Linked DNA regions of Homo sapiens: region 2 is linked to region 1. Evidence: fine-mapped expression QTL. A gene starts in region 1. The other region holds a variant in brackets. All regions are shown on one strand. Distances are between the middles of the regions. Region 1 holds the start of FAIM (Fas apoptotic inhibitory molecule). Region 2 overlaps PIK3CB (phosphatidylinositol-4,5-bisphosphate 3-kinase catalytic subunit beta).

What was found. PIP is the estimated chance that this variant, and not a neighbour inherited with it, causes the effect.
Region 2: its variant is the best candidate, but not a certain one, in a credible set for the expression of FAIM in whole blood (TOPMed, PIP 0.55).

The regions. Positions count from the first base shown.
Region 1 is chr3:138,607,027-138,611,556 of GRCh38, reverse strand. FAIM (Fas apoptotic inhibitory molecule) reads right to left here and starts at 2,786. Exons shown (of 6, transcript NM_001033031.2): 1 at 2,620-2,786. RefSeq lists an enhancer at 2,049-2,138 and a silencer at 2,239-2,698.
Region 2 is chr3:138,735,224-138,739,223 of GRCh38, reverse strand. PIK3CB (phosphatidylinositol-4,5-bisphosphate 3-kinase catalytic subunit beta) reads left to right here. Exons shown (of 24, transcript NM_006219.3): 6 at 1,338-1,517. Among named protein-coding and RNA genes, the nearest start is that of PIK3CB, 98 kb to the left of the region's middle. The variant T/C (reference allele first, on the strand shown) is at 1,945.

The DNA.
Region 1 (4,530 bases):
CAAACCATAGCACAGAGTTATTGCTTAATGGTTACTGTGTTTCTGTTTAAGGTATTGAAAAGTTTGGCAAATAGATAGTGACAATGATCGCACACTATTGTGAATGTACTTAATGCCCCTGAATTGTACACTAAAAAATTGTTAAAATGGCAAATCTATGTTGTATATATTTTACCACTTCAAAAAGTTAATTATATTAGAAAGAATTGTATACTTTAAATGGGTGAATTTTATGGTATGTGAGTTATATTTCAGTAACGTTGTTAAAAAAAAAAACAAAAAAAGAAAAAAAAATGCAGGTGTCCTGGCTGTAGTGTTTCTTGGGATGCAACTGCACCTGTAACCAAAAGATGATAACATCTGTCCTTGTCCCCAATTTCCACTTCACTCAGAAATATCTGTCACATAGATCTCTAAGTTACAAATTCAATTTAATAAACACATGTCATATTCTAAGTTCATCCAGCATACCAATAGTTATTGGGTACTTATGTACCAGGCTCTGGGCAGGGCACTAACCTCAGAGTGGCAGAGTCCGGAGATACCAAGAGATGATTATAGCACAACAGTGGGAGTGTCCTTATAAAGGGAAGCAGCATAGGATAGAATGGGCCATAGAGGAAGGGTCGTAGCTCTGCCGAAGAAGGCTTTGGTTTAAAACTTTGGAGAAAGTGGCCAGGCGCGATGGCTCACACCCCGTAATCCCAGCACTTTGGGAGGTCAAGGCGGTCGGATCACTTGAGGTCAATAGTTCAAGACCAGCCTGGACAAAACGGTGAAATCCTGTCTTTGCAAAAATAGAAAAATTTGCCGGGCATGGTAGCGCACGTCTGTAAATCCCAGCTACTCCGGAGGCTGAGGCACAAGAATCGCTTGAACCCGGGAGGTGGAGGTTGCAGTGAGCCGAGATCATGCCACTGCACTCCAGCCTGGGTGACAGAGGGAGATTCTGTCTGAAAAATAAAAAAATGAAACTTGGGAGCAAGAAATTAATCCACTGTTGTTTTTAAACTCTTATGCATGTACTTAATTTTCAAGATTCTATGACCAAACTGGAAAATGATAAATACAAAAAACCCTCTATTTTTGCAAATATTTTATTAAAATGTAAATTTAAAAAGATGAAAAACCATATTCCACTTACTTTCACTGATGGAGATGATACCAAGCACTTGAAACTTTTTACATGTCTTTAAAGAAAGCTTTTTGCGTATCTCATACGTACCCATCAATCTTTTAAAATCCCTTCCCTAGCAACCCAACACCTAAGTTTCAGAGCATGACTTAAACACCAACACGTTGCCACTGTTCATCTAATCCACCTGAATTTTGCCTTAACTTAGGTTTATTCTTACTGGGGACTGAAATGGTTCGTTCAAGATAAACCGAAGTCAGTTTAAAAATTACTAGATGATAGTAGTTACTAAGATGCTCATGGTTCCCTTTTCAGCAAAGGCCCCCAGGTAGGGCCAGCCAATAATGCAAGTCACACTCAAGTGTTGACATCTTCATCTCCGGGCCGGCCCCTTATGAAGTGAGGGGGGTCTCCAGTAAAATCACTCAGGAAGCTCCTCGAGCCAAGTATTCCCAAATGCTACTTACTGGAGGTACAAAAAGGAGAATAACTTTTCTGAGGGCCATTTCACAATCTATACCAGAAGCCTTGTGGTATAGACCGTGGATTCTATCTTGTTTTAGAACGAATCTTGTGCGATTCTTTCTACAGAAATGATCACGCTCAAAAACCCAGATACAACGATGCTCAATGAATTACTTTTTGCAATAACTAAAAACTGAAAACCACTTGTACGCTCACCATCAGGGAGAAACTACATTTAGTAAATCACAGTCCAAAGCCATGCCAAGAGTCAGGGATGGATGAGGTAGTCAACCTGACACACAGGAATGTACAGTCGAGAGAGAGAGAGAGAGAGAGAGAGAGTCGAGAGAGAGAGAGAGAGAGTCGAGAGAGAGAGAGTCGAGAGAGAGAGAGAGAGAGAGAGAGAGAGAGAGAGAGAGAGAGTTTCAGCACTTTATGATGCAGGTTCTGCAAAAACAAGCCCCGCTCATGTTACAAGGAAAAACCATCTGGAAGAATATACACCCTCATGTTAACGCAGCTTGTCTCTGGGGAGCAGCGGCACGGCTGCTTTGCTTGCTTCCTTGCTTTCTGTTCCACGTTTTCGACAGTGAGAAGTATTATCTTTAGAGGTCGCGAACAGGCCGGAGGAGGGTGCGGCAGGTCGCGGGGCAGGGCCTCGCTAGGCAGGGACGCCCCCGCACCGCCCCGGGCTGGCCCCGCGCCCCGCGCCCCGCCGCACCTCCACCTTTGCCGGCGGTGAGCGGGAGCCGCGTCCCGCCCCGAGGTCTGGGATCACCGGCGGGCCGGCTGGAAGCGTCCGGAACTCACCCAGCGTCTCACCCGCGCGGGTCTCACCGACCGCGCAAACACCGCCCGCCGCCGCCGCCCAGAGATGGCCGCCGCCGGCGCAGCAGGGCCGAGAGCGTGGGGACGCCGGGGGGCTGAGTGCAGGGGTTTCCAGGGTGCGGAGCGGGCGGGCCCGAGGCGTCCGGGCGGGCGCAGGCGCGACACCGACCCCACCCGGTCTGCTGCCTCACCTGTGCTCTGTGGGCCGCGGGAGGCTCTGGGGTAGGTTTCACCAAACAACCGGTTGGTTCCGACTCGGCTGCGTAGGCCGCGTGGCCTTGCTCCCCTGGCCGAGAAACAGGCGCAGCCGGCGCGGAGGTTGAAAGCTCTGCAGGCGCGAGTACCAAACGCGCCGACTGTTTGTCGCGCCTCTCAGGTCCCCTGGGGCGACCAGCGCAGGAGGCCACCCCTCCCGCCGCCACGGACCCAACCCTGGTCCTCTGCCTTAGCCGAAGGCCGCACCCTCCGCGCATAGGCCTTCCTCAGCCCCAACCCAGGACATCACCATGTCCCGCAGTGCGTCCAGTCTTCCTGCCAGCAAGTGTGGGTAGGAGCCGGCCGCTGGCCCCGCTCTGGGCTAGACGGTGGGGACATACTGGCGGGCAAAAACAGCCCTGTGCCTGCTCTGCAGCTATGGGGAAGGAATATCTGTTCATGGCAGCAATAGCATTCGCTCCTTAAAACCTCTTTATGAGTCTCATTCCTTTTTTAAAGACCCAAACTACTTAAGGTGGGCATGAAGCCCCCATGTGTGATCTAGCCTCTGCCTGCTTGGCTTCATTTAGGTCCTTAAAGGATGCAGGTTTCTTCTCGCCCAGGGCCTCTGCAAATGCTCTTCTCTCTGCCTGGACACTCCTCACCTCTTCCCTATTGTGAGAGTTCTTCATATATCATTTCTTAGATTACACTATCCTGGCCCATAAGACTTGCAGCATTGCTGGGTGTGGTGGCTCATACCTGTAATCACGGCATTTTGGGAGGCAGAGTGGCGGATCTCTTGAGTCCAGGAGTTCAAGACCAGCCTGGGCAACATGGTAAAAAAAAAAAAAAAGAGAGAGAGAGAATGAGAAAGAAGAAAAGAAAATAATTAGCGGCTCAGGCCTGTAATCCTAGCTACTTGGGACGCTGAGGTGGGAGAATTGCTTGGGCCCTGAAGGGAGGTAGAGGCTGCAGAGAGCTGTGATTGCACCACTACACTCCAGCCTGGGCAACAGAGCGAGACCCTGTTTCATTAAAAAAAACACACACAAAAAGAAACAGCCGGGCTCAGTGGCTCACGCCTGTAATCCCAGCACTTTGGGATGCTGAGGCAGGCATGGCAAAACCCCGTCACTACTGAAAATATAAAACTTAGAGGGGCGTGGTGGTGCATGCCTGTAGTCCCAACTACTTGGGAGGCTGAGGCAGGAGAATCGCTTCAACCTGGGAGGTGGAGGTTGGAGTGAGCTGAGATTGAGCCACTGCACTCCAGCCTGGGCGAAGAGCAAGACTCTGTCTCAAAAAAAAAAAAAAAAAAAAACAGCCGGGCACAGTGGCTTACACCTGTAATCCCAGCACTCTGGGAGGCCAGGTGCGGATTGCCTGAGGTCAGAAGTTTGAGACCAGCCTGGCCAACGTGGTGAAACCCTAGCTCTACTAAAAATACAAAAATTAGCCGGGCGTGGTGGCATGCGTCTGTAATCCCAGCTACTCAGGAGGCTGAGGCAGGAGAATCACTTGACCTTGGGAGGTGGCAGTTGCAGCGAACTGAGATCGCCTCACTGTACTGCAGCCTGAGCCACAGAGTGATACTTCGTCTCAAAAACAAAAACAAAAAAAACACAAAAATTGCAGCACCAGGGATTCTTCTTCCTAGCCCCTTTCAGGGTGTGCAATAATTTGTGTAATTTTTGCTTAATGTGTAACTTAACAGTAGACTGAGATCCATGAAGGCAGAGACCATGGCCGCTTGGCTCTCATTCTTGTATGTCTCACATCTGTACCGTGCAGGCCCATGTTAGCTCTGGTAAATATTTATTAAATGAATGAATGAATGAAGAGCAGGCCTGGGTAGTGTCTTAGGTGGCCTTGATTTTCAATTTAAGGAGGAGACAGTGTTGCCT
Region 2 (4,000 bases), 130 kb before region 1:
TCTGCCCACCTCGGCCTCCCAAAGTGCTGGGATTACAGATGTAAGCCAGCGTGCACGGCCTCTGGGGTCTCTTTTATAAGGACACTAATCCCATTCATGAGGACTCTGCCCTCATGACCTAATCACATCCCAAAGTTTTCACTTCCAAATATCATCACATTAGAGATTAGGTTTCTACATATGAATTCGCCAGGGGAGACACAAACATTCAGTCTATGGCAGGCACCAACTCATAGAAAACACAGAAGAACAAGTAAAATACTGGAAAAAATAGATGTGAAATAGTAAGTTTAGTTTTTAAAAGTTTGAATGTAAGACATCTTAAATTCAGGGGAGTGATTTATTTAAATTAAATTAGTGGAAAATATTATGGAATTGATGTCAGGTCAGTATAGAGAATAGCAATAAGTTAGTTGTTCAGAGTAGCAGTTGGTTGCTTTGGGAGATAGCTTCTTATATCTTTAGTATATGATCATATAATGAAAAATTACCTTGCTAGATTATGAGAGGATTCAGGTGTTAACTGTATCATTCAGTCTTATGATGAACAGATTTGGTAATGCTATATCGATTCCAAACTATATCTTCATTTTTAATTGATTAGAATTTCTATATGTTTCTATTTACATGTCTCTAAAATTGGACGTAATTGCTAATTTATGGTTTAATTCGTATAAAGTATGGCTGTCTTCTTACCAGTGAGAAATGTGTAAGTTTTTAAAAATATATATACAAAATATAGCTGCAGTATGTGGCCGGGCATGGTGGCTCGTGCCTGTAATCCCAGCACTTTGGGAGGCTGAGGCAGGCGGATCACAAGGTCAGGAGTTTGAGACTAGCCTGGACAACATGGTGAAACCCTGTCTCTACTAAAGATACAAAAAATTAGCCAGGCGTGGTGGTGCACGCCTGTAATCCTAGCTCCTCAGGAGGCTGAGACAGGAGAATTGCTTGAACCTGGGAGACAGAGGTTGCAGTGAGCCAAGATCGAGCCATTGCGCTCCAGCCTGGGGGACAGTGTGAGACTCTGTCTCAAAAAAAAAAAGATGAGATGTTCATTGGAAAATGCCTAATGGTAACCTTTAGTTAAATATTAATCTTACCTGTGGAAGCTGTGCACTATGAATACAGTAAGATGACTTTCAAATTATCAGAAATCTTTATCTTTCAGTAAACTTGTCTACATTCTAAATATGCATCCATATAAAATTTGTTAAGGATGTACCCATATAAATATTATGTACATTTGTACATATTATTACATAATGATTGTAATGTGATTTTTCAGCATAAATATAACATTTACTGCTTTTTTCCCCATCTCCCTCCCCCTTCAGGACGTGTTTAGCTTTCAAGTGTCTCCTAATATGAATCCTATCAAAGTAAATGAATTGGCAATCCAAAAACGTTTGACTATTCATGGGAAGGAAGATGAAGTTAGCCCCTATGATTATGTGTTGCAAGTCAGCGGGAGAGTAGAATATGTTTTTGGTGATCATCCACTAATTCAGTTCCAGGTATGTATATTAACTATTAATTTACCAGAAAAGTCTATGAGTATATATATATATATATATATTTTATTTCTGACTTTAAAAATGTGTTCCCACACTGGAACATTTGGAATATACAGAAAATTATACAGTATTAAATAGTAAATATTCATAATAGTACTTACCTCTGAGATAATCATTGTTACCCTTTTGGCATGTTTTTGTCACTTTTTGCAGTTATGTTTGTATTTTAGCATAATGATTGTACAGACAAATATGTGTATGTATATGTTTGTATTCTGCTTTGCTTTTTTTTTTTTTTTTTTTTTTTTTTTTGAGACAGAGTGTTGCTCTGTCGCCTAGGCTGGAGTGCAGTGGCATGCAGTCTTGGCTCACTGCAACCTTCATCTCCCAGGTTCAAGCAATTCTTGTGCCTCAGCCACCCGAGTAG[T/C]TGGGATTACAGGTGTGCGCCACCATGCCCAGCTTCTTTTTGTATTTTTAGTAGAGATGGGGTTTCACCATCTTGGCCAAGCTGGTCTCAAATTCCTGGCCTCAAGTGATCCGCCCAACTTGCTTGGCCTTTCCAAGTGCTGAGATTACAGCCATAAGCCACTGTGCCCGGCTCATTCGGCTGTTTTGATTGTTTTAGTTAGCCTTATAATTATTGTCTTATATCATTATGAATTTTTTTAACACTTATAGCTGCTTTCTATTTCATCATATAGTATAAACGTGAAATATTCTGGGGGAGGTAAAGTATTTAAAAATCGATTAAATGGTCATCCATTGAATTGTATAAAAACTTATTTGTGATTATCCATTAGCTAACTAAAGGAAAACTTTTCAATTCCAGTCTGAAATATTTATGCGTGGAATTTCCCTTGCCCCTTTTTTGTTACTTCCATGAATGGCAAGAATTTTGCAGGCATTAGGTTTGACCATTCTCAAAAGCCTTTATTAATCATTCGGGTATTTATTTATTTTCATTTAATTAAGAATTCTTTGAGAATATGCTTCTATACGGCACTGAATTGCCCCAGATTATTTTTGGAGTAAAGTGGAGTTTAAATATGCTATGTGCAGTGCAGCACCCCTCTCCCTATAAGGTATACTGTTTAAAGACTAGGTCCTTGGCTTTGCCTTCAAGTAACTTGAAGATGTTTTTGTTGAAATATCTTGGAGACTAAAAAATAGTCATTATGTAAGGAATATTATTATAAGTGCCCAGTTAGAGGTTAGTAGTTACAGAATTTTAGGAAAGTCTTGTTATTTTGTGATATTATTGTTGTTGTTGTTTAAACAAGAGGGGTATAGGCATGCCAATTATAAAGTAATATGTGTTTGAGAATATGGAGCTGCAATTTATTAGCAGATAACATGATGTTACACCTCTTCTCAGGTTTCTGGTGTGGCCCTCAATTTTTGTGGTTTAGTACATATAAGGTCCAGGAGCAGTTATAACTTATGTGCACAGCTTTGGGAGTTGTGGTATTCTGATAGTAAGCTGTTGAACTCTAGTCCATAAGAAGAAACAAGATGAAAAATGCTTGGTGGGCAACATAGAAGTACTGACTTTTCTTCATGTTCTGCCATCATTCAAGTAGATTTCTGTTTCTTTAATTTAACATTTCTTTTTACCTTAAGAGGTGTAAAGGAGAATGTATATTTTACCAGCATTATCCTCTATTATTATAAAGAAAAACAGAAGCATGTATGTGTTTTTGTGCAGGGTTAGACAGGAGAGACCCTGTACAAAAGAGAGAGAGAGAGAGAATATACAGTGTAGGCAAAGGAATGTGAGAGAAATGGATCTTTCATAGTGAAAAGTTTTTGGATGAATATATTTATCATAATATCATATATAACTTCTGAGAGACATTCTGGAAGTTTTTTTTCTCTGACAAAAATGTATTTTTAATGGTTCTGAATTGAATTACGATACATTGAATCACACTCTGGATCTGTATAGGAAATTCATTCTTCTGAGGAATACATTGGATTCCTATTCACTTTGTTAGGAATCTTTGGTAATATGAATAATCACCCCTTTTCTTATATGCCTCTGGAGAGTCATTCTAGTTTTGTGAAAATAGAACATCAAACTGGGATGATCGGTAGGTTTTTGATGGGAAGACGGCTGGTAATACTTGCCTAGAGCTCTGTGATGGAAAGGGGCCATCTCAGGGATCCATAGAAAGTGTGAATCTGCCACATGCGAACCACGTATTCAGCTTTTCTAGCCAAGCTGAAAGTATGGCTGAAGTATGACTTTAGTGTTAGACAAATGGGTTTAAATCTAGGTTTTACAGATACTAGGTGTGCAACTTAACCCTTCTGAGTTTCATTTCTTTAATATGTTAAATGAGTGTAATGAGATTAGCTGTAACATACAATAATCATCTAACTCATTTCTTTAGGTACTTAGGTGTTCAGTTAATGATAGCTATTTTTTGTATTGTGATTTAAAATTCTCATATGCTTAGGCTGGGCTTGGTGGCTCACACCTG